Regions from separate parts of the Homo sapiens genome. Here all the other regions are reported to be linked to region 1. The links are microRNA targets in miRTarBase. Many come from high-throughput screens and were not tested one by one. Region 1 holds a microRNA gene; each other region holds the end of a gene's coding sequence.
What was found. Region 1 holds the annotated microRNA hsa-miR-216a-5p (UAAUCUCAGCUGGCAACUGUGA, at 6,077-6,098, shown strand). A microRNA usually pairs through its seed, bases 2 to 8, with sites in the 3' UTR of a target mRNA and lowers its output. Matches are read on the target gene's strand: a 7mer-m8 pairs with bases 2 to 8, a 7mer-A1 pairs with bases 2 to 7 and ends in A, and an 8mer does both.

Region 2: miRTarBase lists PPM1L as a target of hsa-miR-216a-5p. Seed matches in the 3' UTR shown: 7mer-m8 at 7,279-7,285, 7mer-A1 at 3,841-3,847 and 7mer-m8 at 981-987.
Region 3: the mRNA of MITF is a reported target of hsa-miR-216a-5p. Seed matches in the 3' UTR shown: 7mer-m8 at 871-877.

Annotation. Positions count from the first base shown.
Region 1 is chr2:55,984,943-55,995,117 of GRCh38, reverse strand. It overlaps MIR216A (microRNA 216a), which reads left to right and starts at 6,059; the gene lies at 6,059-6,168. All of the region lies in intron 2 of MIR217HG (MIR217 host gene), which reads left to right. The region is part of intron 3 of LOC105374690 (a long non-coding RNA gene); the gene reads right to left. RefSeq lists enhancers at 9,579-9,668, 9,699-9,758.
Region 2 is chr3:161,068,305-161,078,213 of GRCh38, reverse strand. It overlaps PPM1L (protein phosphatase, Mg2+/Mn2+ dependent 1L), which reads right to left. Exons shown (of 4, transcript NM_139245.4): 4 at 1-9,403. The coding sequence ends at 9,057. Among named protein-coding and RNA genes, the nearest start is that of B3GALNT1, 32 kb to the left of the region's middle. RefSeq lists an enhancer at 8,469-8,518.
Region 3 is chr3:69,964,708-69,974,454 of GRCh38, forward strand. It overlaps MITF (melanocyte inducing transcription factor), which reads left to right. Exons shown (of 10, transcript NM_001354604.2): 10 at 140-3,625. The coding sequence ends at 541. Among named protein-coding and RNA genes, the nearest start is that of SAMMSON, 30 kb to the right of the region's middle.

The DNA of each region.
Region 1 (10,175 bases):
ACATTTTACTTTAAATGTCTATGTTAGAAAGACACAAATTTATGTAAGAAACTAAGCATGTGAAAACTCTAAGTAGTAAATATTTATAAAGATGGTAATGTTCCCTTTCTTGACCTGGGTGGTAGTTACGTGGGTGTGTTTACCTTGTGATAATTCATCAAATTGCACACTTATGATTTGAGCATTTTTCTCTAAGTGTATTTACCTCAATATAGTAACTTAAAAGTAAGTATTTATGAAGACTCCTGGCATTCGCTCCCCAAACATATGCAAGCCAATCAGAATAGTTGAGTATGTATTGTCCCTGCCTGAGGGACGTGCATTCTTCAATCTCCATCCTAAAAGATTGTTTTTAGGACCTCAGGCCTTAGGCATCAGGTATTATCCCCTTGGCCTTTTTCCCCTATGGGCTTTCTTCCCTAAACTGAGCCCCTGTCTTCTCTAATTGGTCCTGAATTTCCCTTACTATCTCCAAAGCAGTTGAGAAAATGTTTCATTCATCTTTTTCCTCACAGTACTATGTCTAGCCACCCTTGCTGTTGCCCTATAAAGATCCAGGTGTCCTTTTACAGGTGCTTCCTAGGTGGCTTTCTTAGGGTCCTCTTCAAAAGGAGCTCTTAAAATCAGAGAATGATGCTGCCTCCTGGTATCTGTCTCTTTCAGTCTCCTTTTCTCACTATATTGCTGGAACTCATATTTCTGAAAAATGAGTTCCATGTTGCTTTGTAACTCCATGGAAAGGTATTGCTATTGGTTATTCTCCCATTTTCAGTTTGATTTCTGTAACAGCCTTCCTGAAAGGGTTATTGTCAAGATTAAATGAGATAATCTACATAAAATGCTTAGTAGAAGGCTAAGAACATGGTCATCCCTAATTAAATAGCAGCTTTTGACACTGTTATTAGTACTGTATGGTTCCATGTCAGACATTGTTAGGCATTTTATGTAAATATTTTTATTTAAACTCCCAGCAAGCCTGTGAGATAGATACTGGGATCCTATTTTTTAGTGAGAAAACTGAGATTTTGTAGGGGTTATGCCTTTTTCCTGGGTCACTAGACAGTTAAATTGACAATGGGGATGCATTTGCTTCTAGAATAAACACCTTCTTATAGGATGTGAATCCTGCCAGATTGTGGCATGGCACTCAACTCCTCAAAGAAGCCATTGAGTTCCAGTCAGGCACTGCGAGAATTGCAGAAGAAATCTCAAACTTGGCCCCTGCCTCCAAGAAGCTGACAATGGGTAAGTCTACCCTTTTGCACTCTTGCCCAACATTCTGTCGTGGAGACTTACAGGCTTACAGGCTGCAAGTATCTAATCATCTTCCATGCTTTCATGTTTGTTGCCTTTAGCATCACTTCCATCTTCCCAAACCAAGTATCCTCTTAGAAAACTCTGACAAACAGCCAGGCGTGGTGGCTCACGCCTGTAATCCTAGCACTTTGGGAGGCTGAGGCAGGTGGATTGCCTGAGCTCAGGAGTTCGAAACCAGTCTGGGCAACACGGTGAAACCCTGTCTCTACTAAAAATACAAAAAAATAAGCCAGGCATGGTGGCGGGTGCCTGTAGTCCCAGCTACTCAGGAGGCTGAGGCAGGAGAATTGCTTGAACCCGGGAGGCAGAGGTTGCAGTGAGCCGAGATCGTGCCACTGCACTCCAGACTGGGTGACAGAGCGAGACTCCATCTCCAGAAAAAAAGAAAAAAGAAAACTCTGACGAACTTAGACTGACATTTCTTCTCTGTTGCAAGAATCTTCAGAGATCTGGATTCTAAACACTGTCTCCTAAATATTTCCAGGAAAAACTTTTCTCCTTCTTTTACTGTGGATGTACTCTACCAGAGAAGGTAGGTCCAAGCTGATTCAGCCATTACAACTTCAATTCCATGGAGCAGATCAGTGGCTCATGTCACTGAAGTTAATTATTATTATGTCTCTGGTCTGCAGAAAGAGCACCTCCAAAATTTTCTTTTTTTATGAAAGAGAAGTTGGCATAAGTTTAGTCTTAAGGATTGCAACCCAATTACATATAGGCAGCCCCCAATGACTATTCTAACAGAAACTACTTTATTTCTCTCCAATTACTCATACTATTATCATTATCCAACCTACTAATAATGGCTTTCTCTGAGGACATTACTTATCCGCTTGGGTCACAGGGATGTAGAATGCACCATATCTCTTGAAGTGGAGCTGGCTTCTTTTTAAGGCTTTGCAGAAGCTTGAACTAGAGAAGGATAAAGCCTTTTTATGGGAACCATCCTTTGTATCAGTAATACTTATGTTCTGTTGTTAATTGTGACTACCTATTCAAGAATGTCTCCACCATTCAGAATGTGGAAAACATGCCAGTGGGAAGCTCAGCTCAATGGCAGTTCCGGCTTTGGCTTTGGACTCGACACCCACTTATGCACACTATGACTCAAATTCCCTTCTCGTAATGCCTTATCTCTAGACACCACTCTCCATGAATCCCTTTCCCTGTTCGTAATCACTTCTAATCCTCATGTTCCTCTGTCTGACCTTCTTTTCCCACAAAAATCCAGAAAGTATGCACTTAATAAACAAACAAATCCATTGACAAAGATAGATGTATTCAGGGCAGCTTTACCAAAATTCAAACTGGTATTTAACACAATTCCAGCCAAAATGCTCATTTGTAACTCCAGCCAACTATTTTATTGAAATCAATTTGAAGCCAAACATTTTCCAAATGCCTACAAGGCTGCAAAAATAATAAATAATGTTTGGCTATTTTTCAAACCTTGGAGGATACAGAGTCCCAGTCCCAGAAATAACAAAAAGACAAGGTGAAAGGAAGCAGACTTGAAAAGAGTTATTGCTTGGATAGTGACTCTCAACCAGAAATCAAAGAGCAGAAGTTCATTTAGGGAAACTTCAGGTAGTTATCATAACTGCTAGGAAATTAGGATACAGAAGAGAGTAACATTGAGTGGATTCTCATGGGTCCTCTCATCTACCAGCACTTTTTCAGTTGATTTATATAGATTTTCTACCTTTGTTTTGAGTTAATTTCCAAAAAGTAGGATGCAAAAGATACTCAAATATAACAAAATTAATACTACTTCAGCACTAGCTTGAGTTTGAGTATCCAAAGACCTGAGATGTTTCAGAATTCAAGGCTGAAGTTTGAGGGAGGACATGTCTCAGATGATGGAGAGAAAGAAGAGAAAACTGAATTGCAAATACAGCTTGTATCAACTCTAGATACCATAAGGTTCAGAGGAATCAATAACATCATGTAAACTCAGAAGCCCTTCAACTTAGAGATTGAGACATCTCTTGACCTATATACTAACTACCCTAGTACATTGGTAATAAACCAGTAATTCAAGCAAGATACAGAAATGGATATGAAAAAATTCTAGGAAGGAGGAAAATAACAAAAAAGACACAAGCATAAAAAATGAGTGGGATTTGGATAACATTTGTAAACTCTAGAGGTGGAAGATTTGTAAAACTAACAGAAAAAGTAATTGAGTTAACCAAAGGACATAGGAGTAAAATTAAAACAAAATAAAATTAGCATTTATGGAGAATCTGTGTATCAGATTCTGTACTAGTTAGACATTTTCACAAACACCACATTTAGTTCTTAATCTCATGCACAAGTATTACCAACACAGAAACTGAGGCTCCAAGAAATAAAACAATTTGCCTTAAAGCCCACAGGTAGTTAAGTATTAGAACCAGGAGTCACACCAAGGTCCACTTCACTCCAAAGCTCATGTGCTTCCCGACACCCCACACACCATTCCACAGCCAAGATAGCTGCAGGAAGGGGTAGTCCTCCAGGTTTTCAGAAGATATCCAAATAATTACAGCTTTGAATAAATAACACTAGTCTTCAGGGAAATAGGAAAATTGCCACCATCTGAACAGACCCAATGACCAAACTGAAATTTATTACTCTCAAATACAAATCTATAGAGAGTCTCTAACAGAACTAAGATCACAAATGCATACATTGCGGTGCACCCAAAATATGCATATAGAGACATCTTAGATAATATCCTCAGAATACTTGAACAGAATGTATAGATAGTGTTAGAAACAGCTTACTCCTTGATACTTTGCTACTGTATTTCAGTTTATCTGGCCTGTGGACTATCTATCCACATTAATATAGCTTTGTTGCCAAAACAACTTTGTATCAGTTTCTTCCTTTTTCTTTTTTAAATGCCCATCACAGCAACCCACTAAGGTAGGCAAGGCAGAAACGTATATGTCTTTGCTTCCATTGAGAGCCCACCTCCCTGTGCAGTTGTGGACATGACAACTTAAGATTAATAAAAAGCTGTCTCATCTTCCACATCAGCATATGATGTTCCCATTTATGATCTTTTCTTAATGTTTTCTAGCAGAGGGAAGAAGAACTACATACTCCTGTCACTTCTCTATGGTAACTTTTCACTATTAAACTTTCTAGAGAGAAAGGAAAATCAAATATAAGATTAAGAGAAAAGAAAAAACTGAACGTCATTCATGTTGCTCTGAGAAGCCCTTGTTTTTTGATTAAGATAAAATCTGCTTATTTTTAATCCTGAGCAATTTGACTCCAGAAAATAAACTTAGAACAATATTTAAAAAGTTAAATCCTAATGATGAGACATTCTTATTTTACAAAAGTAGCTTTGTACTTAGGAGTCCATATGAGGCACAAGATTATATTCAATTGTTCTTTCTCAATTGTTTTGTAACTTTATATTTACCTGACTTTTAAAACGAAAAGCCACTTTTCTAACTCTGTAAATTACCACTCTCTTAATTGTGTCAAGTCTCAATTATTAAAGGACAAGTTATGAGCTGAAATCCATAATTCTTTGCTTCAACAAACATTTGATTTAGTTTGACAAAATTTTTTTGAGCACTTATTAAACATCAGATGCTAAACTGAGAATAGTATAGTTGAGGATATAGAGATGAATAAGCACAGTGCCAACACTTGGAAGTTTGCAGTCAATGAAGGAGAAAGCATGTGAGTGAGAAAACACCATTGTGTATTACAGGTGCCAAAAAAGGGAGACTGGGGAGAGAAGGCAGTGTGTGATAGTTTTCAATGTGTGACTGTCACACAAGGGGGTGTGTGTGTGTGTGTGTGTGTGTGTGTGTGTGAAAGAGAGAGAGAGGAGGGAGAGAGAAAGAAGAAATAATTCCAAGTATGGGCAAACACAGCTCATTGGATTCTCAGAACTTGTTAGAGCTGGAGTCTACAATGTAGAGGAAGAAATGGTCTAGTATGAAGTGAAGCTGGAGAAAGGCAGTGGAAAATCTCCACCGAAGTGCAAATCGCAGCCACCAAAACCAGACCTACTGAATCAAAATATAGAGGTAGGTCCTGGGGATCTACATTTGTAACAAGTTTCCTATGTGCTTCTTACACTCACTCAAGTTGAGATGCCATCCACGGCAGATGGTGGGGAAACTCTGAGGGCGTTTCCTCTTCCTTCCGTTCTTAATCATTATTCTTACCATTGATTAGCCCCACCCAGTGGACTGAGGGGCTTAGATCATGGCTCAGTCTCACTTAGCCATGACAGTGATGTGGGCAAGAGGGGAGGACATACCACCATCTATGAAAGGTAATAGCCACCGCTATTGACACATCTGGCCATTTGGTGAGTATACGGTCATTACTTTTTCAACGTAATTGCTGGTTTTCTTGTCTGAGGACAAATTTTAGAGTGTTTGGCTTTGATGTTTCCAAGTTCTCTATAAAGCTTGTTTAAAAAATCATTTTTAGTGATTGGTTTTACATTCACCTGTACTCCTACTTGGCTGTTTCTTACTATATATGGATTAGAGTAAATCCTTTCTAAATGCAAAGATTATACTTTTATGACATTACATGCAATATAGCATATGCCAGAAATCTGTGAATTCAGCAAGAGGAGTAGCTTGATAATGTCGCCTCAAGAAAAATGCAGAGGGGTACATCAGGGCTTCTGCTGGTGCACTCGATGTATGAAGATGTGCTTCCACCTGAGGCAGCCACGTGCCTCTGCTCATACACTTTCTCTTGCAGGTCTAACACGGATGGCTGTGAGTTGGCTTAATCTCAGCTGGCAACTGTGAGATGTTCATACAATCCCTCACAGTGGTCTCTGGGATTATGCTAAACAGAGCAATTTCCTAGCCCTCACGAATCAAAAGACTTGCATGGCAACCAAAATTAAACACCAAATTTCTATTTCATGACCAAGACGGGGGGAAAAGTTTCGATGGTTACTGTTTCATGCTCAACCTCTTTTAATCTTAGTAAAGTCTTTTTCTAAAGTGCTGTTGTGCTGGAAAGGAAACCAGCCTTGGGAATTAATTTGCCTTTATTGGATTCGCTTGCTACTTACTGCGCTCCTTCAGTGCTACTTGGTTTTTTAAAAAATTGCAGCCAAGGGAGTTTGGGTGTTAGAAGCTGAACCCAAAATATTTTCCCTCTGAAAGCTCCTCCCACTCTCTTTGTGGGTGCTACTCCATCAAATTCCAAACAGTCTAAAAGAGGACGATCTCCTGCCAGGCCCTCCTCAAACTTCAACTCCCCAGATTATCACATTTAATCGCCCTTCCTCATTCCTTCTGTAAGTGTTTCACATTCATCTGCCCTAAATAATATTGAAATTTAGAATCAACTATGGCTTAGGCTGAGGTTGCCATGAAACTTTTGAGCTGTACCCAACTCTAATTCTCGGTGATCCCTGGAAACAGATAATCCTTTTCCATAAAAAGAATAAGAACAAATGTAATTCTTCAGGGTGAAAAATCAAGGCCAGTTATCTTCCTCATTCACCCAGTAACACAAAACAAATCAGATGAACCAAATTTATAATTAAATGTGGGATAACTTTAACAACAAAAATTATTAAAATGCTATTTCCAAGGTCTTGACTGGCACATATCCCCTCAGGTATCCTCAGAAAGAGAAGTCTGTATATCTCAGTTTGATTAAATTACATTTCTGGGCCGGGCGCAGTGGCTTACGCCTGTAATCCCAGCACTTTGGGAGGCTGAGGCAGGCGGATCATGAGGTCAGGGGATCGAGACCATCGTGGCTAACACGGTGAAACCCTGTCTCTACTAAAAATACAAAAAATTAGCTGGGCATGGTGGCGGGCACCTGTAGTCCCAGCTACTCAGGAGGCTAAGGCAGGAGAATGGAGTGAACTCAGGAGGCGGAGGTTGCAGTGAGCCAAGATTGCGCCACTGCACTCCAACCTGGGCGACAGAGCGAGACTCTGTCTCAAAAAAAAAAAAAAAAAAAATTACATTTCTGTATCAAGGCACATTAGTATGACCTATTAGATTTCCTTGCCAGAAATTGATGTTGAGCAGTAGGAGGTAAGTTTGAGAACTAGTTATTCACATACTAATAGCACAAATACTGAACCATAAGCCAGGAAATAACTTACCTCTGGTAAGGAGAGGGCTTCGTATTAATTTTCAGGACTCATTAAGGGCTCTTTTAAGCTGCTGCTGAAACTTTCTAAATGTTGTCTGTATCCTCCTGCTAGTTGAAATAATCATTTTTTCAAACATGAAAAAATTCCCAATTCCAATTTTTGGTGACCATTTTTCAAAAAGGGAAGAAGATAAATGTAATTAAACAGAGCAGGAAATATTTTTTGAAGAGCTGAGTACATATGATGCATCAGGAACCATGCTTGTTGCCTTGCTTGTGTGTACACTCAGTGCACTCTTGCAGTCTCCAGATGTTCCCAGTGCTCTCTGCACATAGAGGCACAGGGAGCTTTTGAAAATGTCAATATCAAGGGCTGTGCCACTGATAAATCAGAATGCCTGGGATGGGATCTGGGCATCTCTGTTTAAGAGGCACCCAGGGGATTGTAATGTGCAGCCAAAGGTGAGAATCACTGTATTTGAGCTCAACAGGGAAGCTGTGGTTGGAGTGCAGTGAGAAAAACTGGAAGGAGAGGATTAGAGGGTATAGCTAGGTAGACTATGGTAAGAATTTGGGGTTTTAGTGTGAGGGACTCCACAAGCAATTGGAGAGTTTTAATTAAAGAAGTGGCATGACTTATTTACCAGTAACACAGTTTAATAGACTTTTCTTAGAATCTAACCATGTATAAACTTTAAAGAAAAATAGTTATTGTGGACTGCAAATAACTTCCTTGTCATTTAACTTTAGGAATGTAAGACCACAGGATAGGCAGATTCCAACCAAGAGGAAAGCTAGTATGAAAGAACAAAAAGGAAATTAGCTCAGAAATCAGGAGCCCCAACTCCTTTAGGCAACAGCTTGAGTCACTGTTTCAAGAAAAAAAGAAAATCACTTATCCTTTCAACACATAGATTCTGACTTTTCTTTTAAAGCTTAATAATTTTAGAATTACATCCTGGTAGTAATTAGCATCAAAATAAGTGAAGGATTTGGCATCTCTGTCAATGAGACATTCAAAATATCATTTGTTAGACTGGGTTTATGCCAGTCTTCAGTAAAAATAGAGTACAACAGGATTCCCACCCTTTTAGTAAAGAGGCTCTGTCTTGCTGATGACCGAAGACCTTGTTAGGGCTCCTGGGAACTAAGTCCTCAGCATTCCTAGCTCATCATCTCATTCACCAGCACCTAGAGCGTGGCACTTATTATCCCTTTTCCACCTGTACCATGAAGACTATGAAAGTCAAGGTGCAAGCAGCCGGCCTCTTAATCAGAGCAAACAAGCAGAACCTACTGCCAGTCCGCAGGACTAGACCTTAGATGTCTGCTGAATCTGTGATCCTGAGCTTTTGTTGAAAACCTGAATTATATTTCTGCCTGGTAAAGATGGCCCCAGGCTCCAAATGTTTGTCTTCTGTGGAAATCCAGATTAGAGTTTTCTGTGGCCCTCCCCCATGCTGTACCACTAAATGATGAACACTTATTGAATGCCCAGAAAGTCCCACTTTTCCCTCCTTTGGCAGCCTGCCCTCAGCCCAACCAAAACAATAGCAAAACAAAATAAACAAAAATGGCTTCTGTTTTTAATGATCACTGCAAGATTCACCATGAAACTCCTATAGATGAGTCTCTATAACCGTCTTATCCAAGCCAGAGCTGTCTATCATTAAGGTAGAGCAGGACAGAAAGAGCTTTTCTGGTTACAGACTTAATTCTGTATCAGATAAGTCCCCTCAGGATCCGTAACCCTGCAAGGTACCCAATTTGGGCTCGTCACCTGGCATGGACATACCAGGAGGATCTCTCTGGAAAAACTCTTGAAATACCCTGGAAAGGGTGATCCTCTGCTTTTTAGTTATATTATACACACCTCAATTACTGGGAAATACTCTTCAGCATATACAATGCTCTAAAGATTGCTCAAAACTGTGACCTGAATTTTAGGATTCTGTTTTATAGTGGCCAATCTCAGTTGTATTGCTTACTATCATTTTGCATTGTCTACAGGCATGTTAGTTATATTTCCAAACTCAAGTAGTGATTAGTTGGCCAGAGAAAAGCAGAGTTTCTGTTCTGTGATTTCTCTGCGGTGAAAGGAAATGAAAACAGGAAGTTACAAATGTACTCCTTAAAGACCTATAATAATATAGTGACATTCAACAAGCAACATTCTTGAACTACAATAATTACTAGGACTTGAACTTCTATAGGTGCTCAATTCTGGCCTTTTTCCTTCTAGATCATCACATTCACTTACCAAGGTCCTGTTTGAGATCACCTGTTTCCAATAACTCAAATAGTCTCTGCCTAGGGTAGGGCACTGGTTCTAAAATTATGGCCCCTGGACCATATCACTAGAGAAGTTGTTAAAAATGCCAATTCTTGGGCCCCATCCCAGATTTACTAAATCAGAGACTCTAGGTGTGGGTCTCAGCAATCTATATTTTAACAAGCCTGTGGATTATTGCTCAACTTTGAGAGCCACTGGCCTAGAGGACCTTTTCACCCACCTTGATGAATCTCTCCTTCCCCATCTGATTCCCTGCAGTAGTTTGTAAGGAAAGATGACATTTTAATATCCAGTCATCCCAGCCAACTGTATCCCAGTCCTTGGGACTTTAAAACTTGCAGTCTTATGCTGGACACTCCAGATAATAGCCAAAAGAAGCCTAAAATTATGACAAGACTCCTGCCCTGTTATTTTTAATTAATGACACTACCTGAGGAAGATCACATAGAGCATATTTGCAACAATC
Region 2 (9,909 bases), not on the chromosome of region 1:
CTCCTCACTCTGTGCTTTCCTCCTTTCCATCCTTAATAACTGAGCTCCATCTATGGTTTTAATCTTACTAAATCAGAAATTGGCTTGGTTTCATTTGAATTTCCTTTTATATGTGCTCATGATTAAAAACAAAACAAAAACCCTACTTTTGATCACAATCAGATCTTTACCGTCTCTAACCATTTACTGCCTAGTATATGAAGTATATGAATTATTCTAATTCAATAGGATTCTAATGCAATTTGGCAATAACTAGTATTATTTGGATTTAAAAAGCCATTGGCATAAACAGAGATGTTTAGGGGAAATGAGCAGGCAAGCAAATAATTTAGAAAGAAGTGATGGTTTCTGTGGTTAAAAATAAAAGTCTGGGATTTAGTTTTTCTTTGCCATACAGAAAACAGATGTTGCTATTTTTGTTCAAAATACAAAACTTAAATTCCATGCTTAGACTCTGGAATGTGTAAAGTAACTATGGATACCAAATTTATGATTTAAAAAAATGACATTTAGTCTTCTGTTCATATTTGAAATCAGGAAATAATTGTGCTCCTGAAATGTTAACTTTCTATATAACAGATTCACTGATTTACACTCAGGAACACTGAAGATACTCAGTTCTGGGCTGTCTTTGGGGGCATAAGGTTATTACACTAGTCTCTTGGGAACAAAAATAAAAATAGGCCATGGAGAGATGTTCTTGCTCCTCCCTTTTCTCCTTTTCTATAATCCTTCTCTTCCCCTAGAAAGATCTGGACAACCTGGCTTTCACCAGCCTACTGCTGCACCCTTGCACAGCTGCTGGCCCACTTGGGTGGAGGCTTCCAGTGGCACCCTCCACTGGGACAGTCCCACCCCCCTATCCTTGTCCCCAGAGGCTCCATGTCTCACTCCCCACCCCATCCTTCAGAAACTAGGTGAGCTAGTAAAATGGAGTAATTATCTTCTGCAGTTTGCTTGAGTGTTGGCAAGAAATTCCCAATCTCATATCACTTACTCTTATATGTGAGAAATAATTATTCTAATTCTGCCCTGTCCCAACAAATCTAAGCCCATTGGAAGAAATCATGAAGATAACAATTTTCATCCCATTGGGTCAATATTGAGTGTTATAATATCTCTGACACCCCAATAGGGTGTAAGCCCCAAGAAGGCAGTGATGGCGCCTGAGTGCTCACCATGGATACATTCACTCAGACACAGTCACTGCCTGGCACATAGTAGATGCTCACACAAAAAAGGAAAGAATAAAATATACAAACACACAGCAATAATAGTGACTTTCCCAATGTAATCTGTTCATAAGATTGATCAATCTGTTATAAATGCAATGATGCTTCTATTTATTTTTAAGAAAAAAACTCATACATTTTCCTTATACAAATTATGTATGTGAGCAGAGTTTACATTGGGGTCTTTTGGAATGAACTGTTTAATTACTATTTTCCAGGTTTGTCAGAATAATCATTTATCTGAACCCACTAAAATTTCTATTTGTCTTTCTCTCTCTTTTTTTTTTTCCTGGCTGCCCATGAGAATGCTGAGACATTATCAAATAGATTTCAATTCTGTGACCTGAACTGCAGTTGTGTAAGTGCTATAAATCAAAATCATTTGCTTTAGTAATTGAAGAGTAAACTGAAAGACAATATTGTAGATGTTAATGTTTCAATGTGAACATGTAATAAATTAAAAAGAACAAACACTGCTTTCTATAATAGAAGCAAAAGTTATGGGTTTTCTCCATGGTCATATTTTATTCATTATTCTACTTTCTGCACACTGTATATGCTTGAGATAAAACAATAACCAAGATGATAAATACATAAAGACTGTTAGTTGTAGTCTGGGAGCCTAAATCAGAGGAGTATTCTTGCTTAATGTCCCATGGTTCTAGCTTTTCTCCACAGAGCAGGATTTAGACGTTTTCATTACTACACGAAGAAGTCATCATTTGTCCTAAGATAGACAAATGGGAATTTAAAAGTTATACAAAAGACATCTTTTTCTTGGGTTAGAGATGTCTAATACATCATTTCTACAGGATTAATTTTTTTAATCATATGAGCAACCTGACCCATTGCATTATATGGATTAGAAAACTCTCTAAGAAGCAAGAATATCAAATCACTCTGTGGTTGGTTTTTGTGAAATTGTCTGTCGTAAATTGAGTACTCACTAGTATTCATGTTGGCATTTGCAAAATTACCACTATGTTAAAACTCGCTCCCAGTTGTACCTGTGACTGTGTTTATCTGACTTCAGTTTTACTGTCCACGATTTGGAACGTGAATGGAATCTGGGACAGTAAAGGTGTTGAGGAGAGCAATAAATGAGATCTCATGTATCCATTTTCATCAGAAAAAAATGGAATAGGGACTGCAATTTTACTAACTTCGCAAATAACTGAGAATGTTCATTTTCTCACTTCAATGTTATCTCCTTCACTAAGAGCGTAAGTACAGAAAGCATAATTCATGATGTAATAAACTATAACACCTCCTTTTCTTAATTTAAAATATTTCCTTTTATATTACTCTCCCTTGATTTGGGCTTCTGTATTTTCTTAAAAATGCTTTCCTTTACATTCTAATTTTGACCACACTGGAAACTGATTTTACAATTTTTTATTAAAAAGTGTTCCAAACCATTTTTCTTAAATGTGATTCTGCCCGTGCCATCAGTCCTACAAAAGGAAGCTTTAAAATTAAAATGCTGTCTTCATTAACAAATAAGCAAAGCATTAACCAATACTCTAAGAGACAAGCCCATTTTTTGAATGGTGAAAAGTGGTAACAACTGCCTTTTCTTCATCTATGTGCAGGTGTCAGAAATTACTATTAAACACAACCTATATATAGTAAAAATCTGATAATCCACATTTCTTATAAGCTACTTTTTACATTTTTAATGTCTGGGTATCCTAAAGGGGTTTTTCCCTGATACTTGACTATTACATCCGCCTTTGCTTCTGCATGAACACGTTTTACATCGTGAATTATCTAATTAATATAGAAATATTTTGAGATAATGCATGATATCATATTTAATTTATGAACTGCCTCATGACAAAAGGTAATGAGAGCTGATACAATCCCTCTCCTGAAGTGGCAGCGAGTAACCCGGGCAGGCTTTGCTCTGGGTCACTCAGCCCTCTCTCCACCACAATCTGCCACCAGTGCCCTTACAGTAATCTGCTTGTGCTCAATGTCCTCGGAGGTTTTTGAGATTAACTTGGATTTGGCAAATGTTAGGTGGGATTTTGTGTTTAAATAATGCAAGGTTATAGGACTTCAAGAATAAATGAAACCACATCTCTAAATACAGTCTATGCCTTTGCTGCATGCTTGCTTTTTGGTGGAGCTTTGAACAGGGAAACTGTCTGTGATGATTTGTTAAAATGAATACTTGCTACATGCTCTCCTCAAAGTCCTTAACTTGGATTTATTAAAGCAGTTGTACGTATGATGCTGTGGTTATTACTAAACACATAAAAATTATCAATAATCAACCCTAGCCTCAACAGTTTGCTGTTCAACAGTGGTAAAAATAACAAATAGACAAAGCATTAACATTACTAAGGATCAGCAAATTTACATATTAGAAAAAATGTTTAGAAATGCATCTATTGGAAGCTTCATGGTATCAACTGCCCCCTGCCCTTTGCAATCCGCCACCTAGCCTAAGAGATCTTACTTTTAGTTTTTTAAAATATTTTGGATAATGTGCAGAGGATGAGCTATTCCTAAATATTGGATGTAATTTTAAGTTAATGACTTTTGCCTTAATTCACTCTGTACCATGTTTTCGACTAGATTTGTTTCATCCATGACTTTGGGGTAATCTCTCATAGCTTCCCAAACCTATTTCTGCAGCCAAGAGTAACTACTGTGGAACTACAGGAAGGCCTCACATTTTAGGCAAGAGATAACATGCCAAACTTAACTATGTACATAAAACATGAAAGGTGGGATGATATGGGACAGGAGTTTTAGAAGGTATGAGCTCTAATTGATTTCAAATTATTTCACTGAATCCAGAGAGGACAATAAAGGAAAGAAAGTAAATAACTGTTAATAGTTTACATTTCAGTTATTATATAACAGATCATTAGTTTTAAAAATCGTTAAAATTTCAAAAGTGAATTAAAATCAAATTTCTGTTTTTCCTTTTCTGTGATTTTCTGTATATTTTTAAATATCATATAGTAATGAAATATAAAAATATTCATTTTGATTCAACCCAAAAAGCAAAGGTAACTGCAAAAAAGCAATGGAAAGATCTTGGAATGAATTTGAGACATATTTAGCTATGGCAGGGCTCTTGCTCATTATTCATATAAAAGAAAGGGATGGCCGGGTGCAGTGGCTCACACCTGTAATCCCAGCACTTTGGGAGGCCAAGGCTGGTGGATTACAAGGTCAGGATATCAAGACCATCCTGGCTAACATGGTGAAACCCCGTCTCTACTAAAAATACAAAAAATTAGCCAGGTGTGGTGGAGGCCGCCTGTAGTCCCAGCTGCTCAGGAGGCTGAGGCAGGAGAATGGTGTGAACCTGGGAGGCGGAGCTTGCAGTGACCTGACATTGCGCCACGGCATTCCAGCCTGGGTGACAGAGCGAGATTCCGTTAAAAAAAAAAAGGGGGGGATGATGTTTAGAGCTTTAAGTAGGATTGTTCTGCTATCAATATGAGGCTGCTGTTGGTCATATTAAGTCATACTACTTCTTAACACTGCTTTTATTAACAAGTCAGCTTCATATATGAAAGGCTCATGCTTCTAAGTTGCAAATTGTACTGCTACTAAGAGTCATCGTGAATGAAAACACAGCAATATTTCAATATACCAGAATTTCCCAAAGGGTGTTCTTTAGAACACAAGTTCCTTGCAGTGTTACTAGGTGCCACTCAAAAAAGTTTCTGTGGTCAAATTAATCTGGAAAACACTGGGCTAACTGACAGTAGATATTTGTTGTGTTTTTCTCTCCTCACAGGACATTTAAATTAGAGCCTTTGATGTGCTCATGTTCACTAACTTTCTAAGATGGTATGTGTTTTCCAAACTTATTTCATCCTAGAATCCTATATTTAGAAGAGCATCTTTGGAACTTGTGTTCTTTGGAACACACTTTGGGAAACACTGGATTCTATTATTTCTACAGCTAACTAGCTCAAAAGTCTAGCTATCAATGACTTAATCCAGAGGCAATTAAACAGGCATAGTATCTAACAGTCATGTCATTTCTCCAGAGCTGGATGACAAATGCTGGTGTGACATGCTAAGGCAATTTTGGGGAACTATTAGGGTATGAACAGTCTAGTTGTGGGTCAAAAGGAGGAAAAAAGAATTTCTGAAATCATTGGAAAAGTTTTATACAAAGTATATATTCCTATAGTTTCAAATATACAATGATATGCTGCCTTTTCTAAACACAGACCTTTCATTGACACAGTTGCAAGAGAGATCTGGCAACAACTTAGAGAACAAAAAAAATCAGGATAATCAAGATACACCTTGATACACAAGTTCCTTGCAATGTTACTAGGTGCTACTCAAAAAAGTTTCTGTGGTCAAATTAAACACAAAGGAAATTAAACGCAAAGGAAAACAGTGGACTCAATTTCCTAGAATCCAACAGTGGAATCAATTTCCTAGAATCACTTCAGATTCAATTGAAATGATGATGCCATCACTCTCATGCAATCCTGTTTGCCATTTACCCAAAATGATGTAATAATTACACTTGTATGAAATAAGGTCTGTTTTAAATTATCCAGCTTACATCCTTCACTATAACACTCTCTGTATAATATTCTTATGACATATACAAGATTCAAGAAGCCAATACCTCAGTCCACAGCAAGGAATAAAATGCAGCCACTGGTTACCAGTACTATGTACATATGTACACAGATATGTCACATTAGAACAGCAATTCAGAGTTAATTGCCTTGGGGCAAGTTGGTCATATAAAATAAATAATACAGGTCTTGGGAACAGCTTTGGAGCTTTCTATATGTGTTGTTTATTCCTATGATGAAAGAATTTTAGATACAATTAATTAAAAAAAATTTCCCTAGCTGTCCCTCCCCCAACCTATGTTAAGAGTACAAATTGCCAGTGGAGCAGCAGCAGAGCACTGCATTAATGGAGACCTGGGCCTGGCATCGTGCTGGGGTCTCAGAAGCACATGGCCATTCCTGTCTTCATTTCTAAAAGACTGTAAAACCATCCCAAAATTTGGCACCATGGGGACTATTGGCAATTCGAACTCGAGCTAGCTAGGGAGTCTAGGAAGCCTTGGGTGACAATTCCAAAGCTTTGGCAGTGCTGCTTAGGGAAGCTTCACATGCAAACATCTCAAATCAATTTCCCTAATGGCTAGATTCAGCATTCCCAGGTCCCTGGGGAGCAGCCAGTGTACCATAGGGCACCCCCAGGAGTGATGTCTGCACATCCCCAACAGCTGGAAAAGGGCTAGGGAGAGAGAGCTCCAGAAGGAAGGGAACAAAATACTCTGATTTTAGATATAACTATCCTAACAACTATTAATGAAACTGCTACAGTTTTGCCTAGAACTTCTATCTTTTGAAAATCTACAAGCCATAGTAGGGGGGAAAGAGGCAGTAATGGGAGTAGGATATATACACTCTATTTGGTTAACATCAGAAATGAATTAATTGTACAAAGCAAAATTTAGAAGACGCCTTGTGAACCTCAATTAGAGAGAAAGTTATGTAACTCGTGCACTCAGCACCATCTGTTAAGAAATTCTGCAGGGCACGTAACCACTGATTTACTAATTTAGTAGCTTTTCTTTTTCATCTTTATCAAAACACTGTTGCTTTCATTTTAGACAATAAAAATAACCGGAATTTAAAAATGTCTTTTCCTTGCTATTATACATTTTTGTGCTACGTTAAAAATAAAGAAAGTTGGCTATGGGCTGTAAAGTGCTGACACCATTGGTGCTGATTTCAGTTTGATGGTGGGTGGGGGCAACTCTTAGGAGTCAGAATGTCCTGAATTTCCAAGCAAACTCAGCCGCCTGGCCTGGCCATCTCAGCACTGCTCACAGCCAGCATTTGTTTTCCACATTCCCTTCCCTGTCCCCACCCCAAATATTAATACACACATCCACATATTCAGTGTCTCCCCATAGGCAAATGCTTAAATCTAAAATGGTGGCAGATATTTTTTACTAGAAGATTCTATGGCTAAAAAACAATAACCAAGGTTCTGTAATGCTGGAAAATACAGTATACAAAAGTAAGCAAATCTCATGGGAAATCATTAGCAATTCTCAGTGCAGTCAAAGAAAGTTAAGTGCTTGGAGAAATCAAGACAGATTGCAGCCCTCCACATCTACAAGGCAATTTCTTCACTCTCTCAAATTCTCTCCTGGACACTGCTTTGGGAAAACTCTACAGCAGCAGGAGGGGAGAGGGCAGGGTTCCACGGCGAGGAGGTGGCCGGTGAATGTGGCATATGGGAAGCTATAACCACAAATGCTCACAGGGAAAGAACAAAACCAGGTGGATACAGAGGGCTGGGAGGCAACGGAAGTTTCGTTTGGCTGTTTGAGTCACCTTAGGCAAAGAGAGTGACCCAGCATTTTCTCTAAATAATATAAAATACCAAGGTTGGAAAAATGATAAATTAGCGATACAGGAAATGGAGAGCAGCAAGCCAGGCCCCTAAATAATTCTGGCCCACTTATCAATATGGGTTCACGCTTGAATTCCTGACTTACTGTGTTGCAACTGCCAGGTCCCTTTGCTGCCTCCCCTGCAGGCCTGCAGGCCACGGGGCGGTTTGTATTTGCCTGGGGAAAGCTCCCTGATGTGGATGGAGATTTGCAACCAAATGTTGAAGACTGCTGCCTTTCCATTGTCAAGGAGAAGCTTATCCCAGTAGTTTCCCACCAAATCCCAAGCTGCAGTAGCTGGGAACTCTGCACCTGGCTTCAAGGAACACACATACAGTTATAGGCTGCTGCTTCTCAGAACACTGCCTGACACTTGAAAACCACTTGGAAAGGGGCAAGGAAAAACACAAAAACTGGCAGCTGGAGCTCAATTCAGGGTGGTAACCTCACCAGCTCACTCCTTTCTCAATGCAAACAGCTTACTTGCCAGGGAACACTGTGACTCATTCAGTATCATTTCCTTCATCTACTGTTGAAAATGGAAGGAATCATGGTATTGTGGCTTGCTTTTTTCATTTCCCCTAACGTGGTTTCTTGGTCACGTAAGATGAAAAATCAGGGTATCTGTTGGTGAATTTAACAGCTGCCTATTACATATGGTAAGGACTAAGCAAAAGGTTAACGGTCATGCATGATTAGGATAAATGCACAAAGGCTGGTCAGGTGGTATACAAAGTCTATTTAACTATTAAAGGAAGCAAGGGAAGAGGGTTATCTCTGCTGTGCAGGCAGTTGCCACTGGTCTCTCATTCTCTCTGCTTCTCGCAGTCCCCAAGAGCAGCCAAAATAGTAAACCATTCCAAATCTGCTTCCAAGCTGCTACTGAGCAGAAAACATGGGCTCAGAAGGACAAAGCATTCTCAGGACAGCTCTGTCTCTTGGCAGAGGGTGTTGCCACATCAGCCCCTGACCACTCACAGGTGACGCAGTGGCCTGTCTCCTGCAGCACTGGGTGGTCTGTCCTGTCCACTGTTACAAAGAGAGGACACAACAGCTGATGCCTGGAGGACCCTGAACAGGATCTTGAAAAGAATCTTCAGGGAGACTAAATGACACATATGCTATTCACTTCATATATGTGACTCTACAGCTATTTACTTATATATTTTGGACACTGGATGAAAGAGTTGGGAAAACATGAAGAAACCATTTTCCAGTTTCTTAACTACATTGGCCAAGGGCACCCTCTGTTCGTCACTGATTATAGACCTAAGACCACCAGGGAGGGGGGATTCCATGTCTGGGGTGGATGATCCTAATTACAACTCCCACACTTTTCACTAAATTAAAAGAGACCAGTGTGTTGAAAGTCCTTTAGTCTAAGGCAGCTGAGACCCCTGAAGGGTTCACTGCTCTTCTGTTTTGCTGCTATTTCTGAACTTCACCACCATGACTGTTATATTGTCAGGGCAGCCTCTGTAAAATGACTGTAAAACTATGCTCTTGGCCCCAAAGTGAGGTTCATCCAAGCGCTCCTTGATGAATCGAACTGCTTCTTCATTGCTGAAAGCATCCCAGAGACCATCTGATGCCAAGATCATGAACTCAGGCTGAAGCTTGTCCAGGTCAAAGGTCAGGATGTCTGGGTCTGGGATGACCACGTTGAGATTTTTCAGCGGATAATCCCCCAGGGACCGAGACATGGCCAGGATTCCCTGGACCCTCCAGGAGCCATTGAAACTGATGAAACCACCTAGAAAGACAGGATGAGCCCATTAGTTTGACCAGCTGATATCTCACTTACCTGGGATAGTCTAGGTACGTGCGCAACAGGGTGACCTACTTCATGTGAACTGGGCTGTGGGCACTCCCCTTAACCCCATCACTCCTGGGACCCACTGCATGGCCTGGGGTTTTATACTCTACCAGTTGATCCTCATACCCTCATCCTGGCATCTTGAAGGATTTCAATAATATATCAATAAGAGTACTGAAGGTGGCGGATACATATGGGGGAGGGCATTGGTTTTTAACTTAACACCGTGGTGGCTCAGTGATTGACAGTAGAGAGCATGAGGGTAGGGATTTGAGGAGAGTGGCAAAGGAATGCTGAAAGGCAGGTGAACAGGCACCGTATATATCATTTGGCCTGAGGCCACTCATAAGTGTGCCTATATAGGTCTCAAAACAGCTCTGTCCCCCCAAATAGGATCAAGATTAAGAAAAAGCACACACTAGTATAGTCATTAAAGGCTCAGG
Region 3 (9,747 bases), not on the chromosome of region 1:
GTATTGTACATTTTGTGGGTTTGGCCAAATGTCTAATGACGCGCATCTACCATTATAGTATCATATAGAGTGGTTTCACAGGCTTAAAAGTCCTCTGTGCTCTGCCTATTTCAGTGTTTTATCTTTACTCTTATTATAGGAACTTGAAATGCAGGCTCGAGCTCATGGACTTTCCCTTATTCCATCCACGGGTCTCTGCTCTCCAGATTTGGTGAATCGGATCATCAAGCAAGAACCCGTTCTTGAGAACTGCAGCCAAGACCTCCTTCAGCATCATGCAGACCTAACCTGTACAACAACTCTCGATCTCACGGATGGCACCATCACCTTCAACAACAACCTCGGAACTGGGACTGAGGCCAACCAAGCCTATAGTGTCCCCACAAAAATGGGATCCAAACTGGAAGACATCCTGATGGACGACACCCTTTCTCCCGTCGGTGTCACTGATCCACTCCTTTCCTCAGTGTCCCCCGGAGCTTCCAAAACAAGCAGCCGGAGGAGCAGTATGAGCATGGAAGAGACGGAGCACACTTGTTAGCGAATCCTCCCTGCACTGCATTCGCACAAACTGCTTCCTTTCTTGATTCGTAGATTTAATAACTTACCTGAAGGGGTTTTCTTGATAATTTTCCTTTAATATGAAATTTTTTTTCATGCTTTATCAATAGCCCAGGATATATTTTATTTTTAGAATTTTGTGAAACAGACTTGTATATTCTATTTTACAACTACAAATGCCTCCAAAGTATTGTACAAATAAGTGTGCAGTATCTGTGAACTGAATTCACCACAGACTTTAGCTTTCTGAGCAAGAGGATTTTGCGTCAGAGAAATGTCTGTCCATTTTTATTCAGGGGAAACTTGATTTGAGATTTTTATGCCTGTGACTTCCTTGGAAATCAAATGTAAAGTTTAATTGAAAGAATGTAAAGCAACCAAAAAGAAAAAAAAAAAGAAAGAAAGAGGAAAAGAAATCCATACTAACCCTTTTCCATTTTATAAATGTATTGATTCATTGGTACTGCCTTAAAGATACAGTACCCCTCTAGCTTTGTTTAGTCTTTATACTGCAAACTATTTAAAGAAATATGTATTCTGTAAAAGAAAAAAAAAATGCGGCCTTTTCATGAGGATCGTCTGGTTAGAAAACATAACTGATACCAACCGAAACTGAAGGGAGTTAGACCAAGGCTCTGAAATATAAAGTCTAATCTTGCTCTCTTTTATTCTGTGCTGTTACAGTTTTCTTCATCAATGAGTGTGATCCAGTTTTTCATAAGATATTTTATTTTGAAATGGAAATTAATGTCCTCTCAAAGTAAAATATTGAGGAGCACTGAAAGTATGTTTTACTTTTTTTTTATTTTATTTTTGCTTTTGATAAGAAAACCGAACTGGGCATATTTCTAATTGGCTTTACTATTTTTATTTTTAAATTATGTTTTACTGTTCATTTGATTTGTACAGATTCTTTATTATCATTGTTCTTTTCAATATATTTGTATTAATTTGTAAGAATATGCATCTTAAAATGGCAAGTTTTCCATATTTTTACAACTCACTGGTGGTTTTCCGCATTCTTTGTACACCCATGAAAGAAAACTTTTATGCAAGGTCTTGCATTTAAAAGACAGCTTTGCGAATATTTTGTAAATTACAGTCTCACTCAGAACTGTTTTTGGACACATTTAAGGTGTAGTATTAATAGGTTAAAACCAGGCTTTCTAGAAAGAATAAACTTACATATTTATTTTTAGGACATGAAAATAGCAATATTCTTGGAGATTGATAACCATAGCATTAATACGCCCATTATGGTCATTTAAATTGGGGTTTATTTCAGCAAACTTGTTGAATTTATTTTTAAGAAAGAAATACTGTATTGGGAAGTTACTGTTACTTGATAACAATGTTTTAACAAGAAGCAATGTTATAAAGTTAGTTTCAGTGCATTATCTACTTGTGTAGTCCTATGCAATAACAGTAGTGTTACATGTATCAAGCCTAGATGTTTTATACAGATGCCATATAGTGTTATGAGCCAGGCTGTTGAATGGAATTTCTCAGTAGCAGCCTACAACTGAATAGCAAGTGGCATAAAGCATATCCATTCAGAATGAAGTGCCTTAAATATAGCAGTAGTCTTTTTTGGACTAGCACTGACTGAACTGTAATGTAGGGGAAAGTTTCATGATGGTATCTATAGTCAAGACGAACATGTAGCATGGTGCCTATGTAGACAATATAAGAGCTTCCAATTTTCCTTCAGATATTTTTAATATTAAATATATTTTAGTGACAGAGTGCCAACTTCTTTCATCAGGAAACCTTATTCAGGAGGGTTTTTAAAAAGTGTTTAAATGTCAAATGTGAATTGGTGATGGGTGATGGAGGGTTCAGAGAGGAGTGATCGTCAGATGTGTGAATGGACGGTTTAGGTGAAAATAATCAACTGCATAGTTCCCATGCACGCTGGGCAATGAGAATCCTTGGAAACATTGGTGATGCTATCAGTTTTATAGCTTTATTTCTTAAGGGGGTAGGGAAAATTAGTTCCCATTCTTTCAACCCCCTTAACTGTATAGCTCTTTTCCTAGAATAGTGACGCAAATCTGCATGAACAGCTAATTGTACCATAGTGTTCATTGATACAATCATAGCATTGTCTATTTTTCTCTTCATATTTATATGGGGGGGAGGGCGCTGGATGCAAAAGTTGAAGATCGTGATGCTATGATGTTAGTTTTCCTTAGCTGATTTTGAGGGTTTTTAAAAATAAAGCAAGGTTGACTAACCTACGGCCACGGGAACAGGACCATGGTTAAGCAACCATATAGAAAGCTTTGTTGAAAGAAAGTATGGCATCTTGTACCACTGCCCTGACTGTCACAACTCCTAACCTTGCCATTGCCTGCCTCCCCCTCCCCTTCTCCTTAAGAGACAATTTCTGCAGGTGGCAGGTGAGCAAGCCCAGGAGAATGCTGCAATCTTGGGGGTGGTTTTATTTATTTCTTTTTTGCCAAATAGAGTGTGGATTCATTTCAGGGGCTAGCTAAGCCAAGAGGCAGTGGTTTGGGCTTGTTGTTTGTAACAAGAAAATGATCCACACCACTCCCCCGATTCCCGGGTGCAGAATTGTAACTCGGGGTTGGGCCTCTATATGGAGTGACCAAAATGCCAAAATTGTCCATCTGCCTCTGAGTAGGGCAATGGAAATACCAAACCTTCTGACTTTGCCAAAAAGCATACAAGCAACCTGGTCATACATAGGATGACAAAATTCTTTCTGGTTGTTTTTAAACAATAAAGCAATAAGAACAAATACAATACATAGGAAGTTAAAAGCACAAAGGAATGAACTTATTAATATTTTTGAAAAATGCACTGGGAAAAAGTTGATGTCAATAACAGTATAAAACAGCCCTATTTCTTGATAAAAAATGACAAATGACTGTCTCTTGCGGATGCTTGGTACTGTAATGTTAATAATAGTCACCTGCTGTTGGATGCAGCAATAATTTCTGTATGGTCCATAGCACTGTATATTATGGATCGATATTAATGTATCCAATGAAATAATCGACTTGTTCTTGATAGCCTCATTAAAGCATTTGGTTTTTCACATAGTGGTGGCCTATTGTGTTAATGCCAATTTTGAATGCTATCTGCCATATCAAAAAATGGTAGTGCACATTTTCTTCTGATTTAATGAATAACAAATTGCATGAAAATTTAGAAAATGCCAGTAAGTACTTTTTTTGTTTAAAATGCCACTCTAAGATGTTACTTTTTGGTTTTAAACATTTTTGATTACTTTTTGACTTACACTCAGATGAGGTGTAATTATGCACCTTTTTTATCCCCCTCTGAATTTGGGGAGATTTTAAACTCCCAAATGCCAAGACTTCATTTTAGATATAGGAGTTTTATTTAAAATGTTTCATTGAGAGGTGGCTTTAAAAAAGAGAAATTGTCAGAGAAACCCTTGCATATTTACAGAAAAGATATTGGGTTTTTAAAATACAAATTTACAATAATGAAAGCTTAATATACCCAGGCTGCCAGCTCCTGGTTGCCTTTTTTTTTTAATACACTACTTAAGAATCATTTGATAAATGTTGGATTTGAATTGGGAAGTGTCAGACAAAACATGTCTTTATTCCCTAGCTAGACCTTAAACTTCTGCCCTTTTAAAAAATATATTCTGGCTTAACCTCTGGAGAAAATGAGCAAGAAACTTCCTGTAATGCTTCTGATCTGACTGTCAGCTTTTTCCTACTTTTAATTTTCTTCTTAAATTGTAATATACAATAATCAAGGCCTTTCTTTTTTAGACCTATTTGAATTATTTATATTTTCCCTAGAAGTATAACTGTAGGATCCCTTAAAAACATGTAAAAGTAGAAAGATTTCCTTTTGGAACAAGAGAGAATATTCTGGGCAAAATCAAAAGCAAGTAAGTTGAAAATTGGGGCTTTTCATCTCCGGGGGATCTGCAGCAATACCTTCACCCACATTTCTGTCCTGATATTTACCAGTAAATAGTCATTTCACAGCCCATAAGAATCCTTCATCTTTAGCTTCCCCCACTTACACACAGACACACACACACACACACACACACACACACACACAATTAACGTGTTATAGTGGTGTTACCTGAAGATTAGACATTTGCCTACAGTGTGTATGACTTCATTTGATATCCACAGAGTTACATTTCTTAAAATTTTATTAAGCCAATTCACTTTCAAATAAATTATATCCGTTCAATCACCACACATGACCTCTCAGTTAATCTTCCTGGGTTTGAATCTTATCTCTGCCCATGTCTAGCTCTATGATTTTGCGCAAGTTATTTGGCCTCCCTGTGCCTCAAAAGTAGCTACCACATAGTGGTCTTGTGAAGACCATTCGAGTTAATAATACTAGAATTTGTGCTTGACAGCACATAGTAAATGCTTAGTAAATGATAGCTTTTCTTATAATAATCACCTTCATTACTAAAATGGAAAATACTTTCTGGACCAACTAAAATCATCATATGTATTAGCAGTGACATGCACACCACATTTGGCAAAGCACTGAATTACAACATAGATTGAAGACATGTGTAAACTGGCCAGGGGACAGAAGCCACAGGCTATTTAGGAGAAAGGAACCTTGCTGTTTGTAAGACCTAGGGTAGGAATATTTTAGAGAATTAGTAATAAACTCAAAGTATCACATTAAAATATCTTCAGCACAAATGACCTAAAATTTAAATTGTTTTAAACCTGTACATTCTGCATGTATGCTTCTGCCATGAGAATAATTATATTATTTTCATAAAATATGCCTTAGTGAAGCTGAAATCTTTATTATATTCTTTAGAAAATTAAACTGTTTAATCCTTTGCAATATACACTGATATTATACAGCTAAGAGTGGTGTCTTGACTATATCCTGTCTTCAGTTTCCTATCAATATTGAAATGTTTCTCAGGATTTTATTTTCAATTGTACTTACATTTGATGACTTCTTTGGAAAACCATCTGAGAAGTTAATCTTCATAATCCAGCCAACATAAATGAACTCTTAGAATTACTCTGTTTTTATTTTTTTGTGTATGCCAAGACTTAATGCATAGCCAAGTAGCATGAGGAAAGCTCCTTTAAGAGGAGCGTTGTAAAGTTAGATTTTCATTATATTTAGAGAGAGGTTGTGATGATCTCTTAATTCTTTGCTGCCACATCTGAGGCTCAATAGCAGTGGCTTTATGTCTGTACCCATAATAACATGAATCCATAATACACGTCTGAACAGAGTGTAAGTGAAGAAGCTTTTATTATCCCAGTTTTCCCAAGAGGCATATATCCTCCTCCCCTCAAAAAAGTGTAGAGTAAATCTGCCATATTAAAATTGTCAAGGTCCTGTATATACATAAAATGTAGACATGGTTAATTGTATTTGTGTTCAGTATTTGTAGGTCTTTTGAGCCTATTACCTATACCAGATACACTGGAAAGTAATATGAGTATACACAAAACCAAATAAATTTCAGCAACGCATGTAAATGGTAAAGACAGTTTGCTTTTGAAAAATTTGCATTTTAAATTTCTAATTATGGAGTCAGTTGAAGATATATCCAAATGGGTGCAATTGTCACTCAAAATTCCTTACATATTATTCAGACAGCAAAATCTATGTAAATAGAAGCCACGAAACTAGTGTTTCCCAAACTTCACTTTATGGAACTAGTTCCACAAGCTGTTGCACAAGTTGCTTTGAGGAATGGGGGTTTGGAGGTGGGCTGGGGTCAGGAAATGCTATACTGTAGTTAATTTTGAGGAAGTTAGCTTTGGGAAATGCTGAGCTAAACAAATGTGAACAAGTATTTCTACTGCAAGACTTCTCACATTCTAAATTATGCTAATGGGATTGAGAGTTCGTAACATTTCCCAGTCTCATTTGGCCACAGGATTGTGTGTGTGTGTGTGTGCGCGCACGTGTGTAAGACACCTGCTAATTGTTCCAAAGAACACAGTTTGGGAAATTCTGGAGATTTTACAGAAATTATTTAAACTCAATAAATTTTTTTTTTGTTTTCCTAAGGCAAGTATGCTTACGTTTGTTTATGATTCCATAGGTAGACGTCATTGTCATTAAAAAAGTATTACTCTGAAGAAACAAATTAGCTTAGGTTTTCATCTCCATTGAAAATATAAAATTCTGATTAAGGAAAATATTGGCATTAAGAAACTGTTATTCCTGAATTTAAAAAGTAACATGTTTTCATTTTCAAAGAAAATATTCACTCTGGTTACACACATGTTCAATGTACCTTTTGTATGAGTGGTACTATAAAAAGTTCTTTAAGTTGAATGTCTCCCACATCTTTAAATATGGACAACCTAATGTTTAGGAAATATTTGGTTTATAACTTTAGGTTCAGCTTACTGGTTTTTGCTGGAAGGACATTAGGAAGAATTGTATGGTATTCAGAATTGATGTAGTCTTGTCAATGACTCTTTTTCAATGAAGGTAAGTTCTGACAGAGGGATCAGGTTGTATCTCCAAAGTTCGGTTGTTAATTGGTTATAGGCCAACCCACAAGAGCTATATTAATTCTTACATGCCTGTAGTATATTATAGGACTTACTAAGATTGTTTTAGAATTTAAACACTGTATTATGAAGCCCAAGGGAAAATACATTAACACACCTTTTCCACTCCTTACAGATGAGATCACAGATTTCTTTCATTCAATGTCTTTTAAAAATACTTTTCAGCCCTCACTCTTCGCCTAGGAATAAACGGTGAGCAGAGGAATTTCACTCCAGTGGAATGAAGGAATTTATTGGCTCATATTACCATAAAGTCCAAATGGCAAATATAACTTCACGTATGCCTGGGTTCAAGGGCTCAAACAAGCATTCAATCTGCTTGTCTCTAATTTTCTTGGTGCCAACCTCCTCTTGGAGGCAGGTCTTCTCCATGAGGTCCCCTCTGGCAGTTTCAAAGTCCAGTAGAAAGCCAGCACCTCTTTCCCAGTTGCTATGGTGAAGTCCCTGTAGTAGTTCTGATCAGCCCTACTTGGTTATGATCACCATAACCCAAAAATGGAACACACCAGTGGGCCAGGTCTGGGTCACGTGTCCACTCTGCTAGATTCATTCAGCAGCACCTAAACCTTGTAGACCAAGAGACAAGGAGGTGGGACTCACCCAGACTCCAAAGGATACTGTTCCCAAAGCGGGAAGAGGAATCTCTGTAAGCAAAACAACAGATACTCATTGCTTGGACTTCAAGAGGACTGGACAAACTCTACCCTTGCCAATCTTTTGCCTTTTCAGATGCACAGATTTGGGACTTTTTTCTTCCTTCACCCTTAACCCCAGGGTGATAGAAAGGGAGGGAAGGAAGATATTAAATCCCTACAGCTGCATCTCCCTCTTCCTCATTATTCATGGCTCATTTCTCATAACCAGCTCTCCGGCTCTCACCCCCTACTCAATCCTCTGCCAGACAGAGATCCTAAGACCCAAGTTTTGCAATAAAATACAGTCATGTGCCACATAATGATGTTTTGGTCAATGATGGATTGCATATGTGATGGTGGTCACATAAGATTACAATGGAGCTGAAAACTTTCTATCACCTAGTGACATTGCAGCTGTCATGCCATGAGCTCAATGCATTACTCACATGTTTGTGGTGATGTTGGTATAAACAAGCCTACCGCACTGTCAGTCATAGAGAATTATAGCACATACAATTATGAACGGTAACATAATACTTGATAATAAATGACTATATTACGGATTTATGTATTTGCTATTTATCATTATTGTAGAGAGTACTCCTAATTGTTAAAATGGCAGGTCCTTCAGGAAGTATTCCAGAAGAAGGCATTGTCATCAGAGGAGATGACAGCTCTATGCATGTTCCTGCCCATGAAAACCTTCCAGAGGAACAAGATGTGGAGGTGGAAAACAGTGATATTGATGATCCTGACCCTGTGAAGGCCTAAGCTAATGTCTCTGTTTTTGTCCTTGTTTTTAACAAAAAAGTTAAAAATTGTTTTAAAATGAAAAATAGTAAAAAGCTTATAGAATAAGGATATAAAAAAGAAAAATTATTTTATTTACTTTTATTTTTATTCTCTTTGAGACAGAGTCTCACTCTATCCCCCAGGCTGGAGTACAGTGGTGCGATCTTGGCTGACTGCAACCTCCGCCTCCCGGGTTCAAGCGATTCTCCTGCCTCAGCCTCCTGAGTAGCTGGGACTACAGGTGTGTGCCACCAAGCCTGGCGAATTTTTGTATTTTTTGGTAGAGACGGGGTTGCGCCTTGCTGGCCCAGCTGGTCTCATACTTCTGACCTCAAGTAATCCACCCACCTCGGCCTCCCAAAGTGCAGGGAATTCAGGTGTGAGCCTCTGCGCCCAGCCAAGAAAATATTTGTGCACAGCTGTACAATGTGTGTTTCACACTGTGTTATTACAAAACAGTCAAAAAGTTAAAAGCATCAAAAAGTTTATAAAGTAAAAAATTATAGTAAGCCAAGGTTAATTTATTACTGAAAAAAGAAATTTTGAGTAAATGTAATGTAACCTAAGTGTACAGTATTTATAAAGTCTACAGTAGTACAGTAATGTCCTAGGCCTTCACATTCATTTACCACTCACTCATTGACCCACCCAGAGTACCTTCTAGTCCTGTAAGCCCCATTCACGAGCCCTATACAGGTATCCTATTTTTAAAATCTTTTATACAGTACTTTTACTGTACTTTTTCTATGTTTAGATACACAAATGCCATTATGTTAAAATTACCTACAATATTCAGTATTCAGAGGGCTCACCAAGCACTCACTCCTCTAAATACAAATGGACTCTTACTTCTGTCATTTCTAAAGCCAACTTTGTTATCATGATGTTTTCAGTTGCCCATTGCAGAAACGAAACTCCATTTGGAAAAAAAAAAAAAAGGCAGGGAGGAGAGAGGGGAGTTTACTGGTTTTCATAACAAAACTCCAGGGGTGAAACTCAGAATGGTGACTTCAGGTGCTCAAATGACCACTTCATGCATGCATTGCTCCCTCTTCTTAGATGTGCTCTCCTCTGTGTTGGCTTCATTTTTAGGCAAACTCTCCCTGTGAGGTGGCAAAATGGCTAATGGCCCCAAACACAACCTTGCAGTTTATCAACCAGCCCGGAAAGAGCATTTCTCTCCTCCCAGAGTCTCATTGGCCCAAACTGGC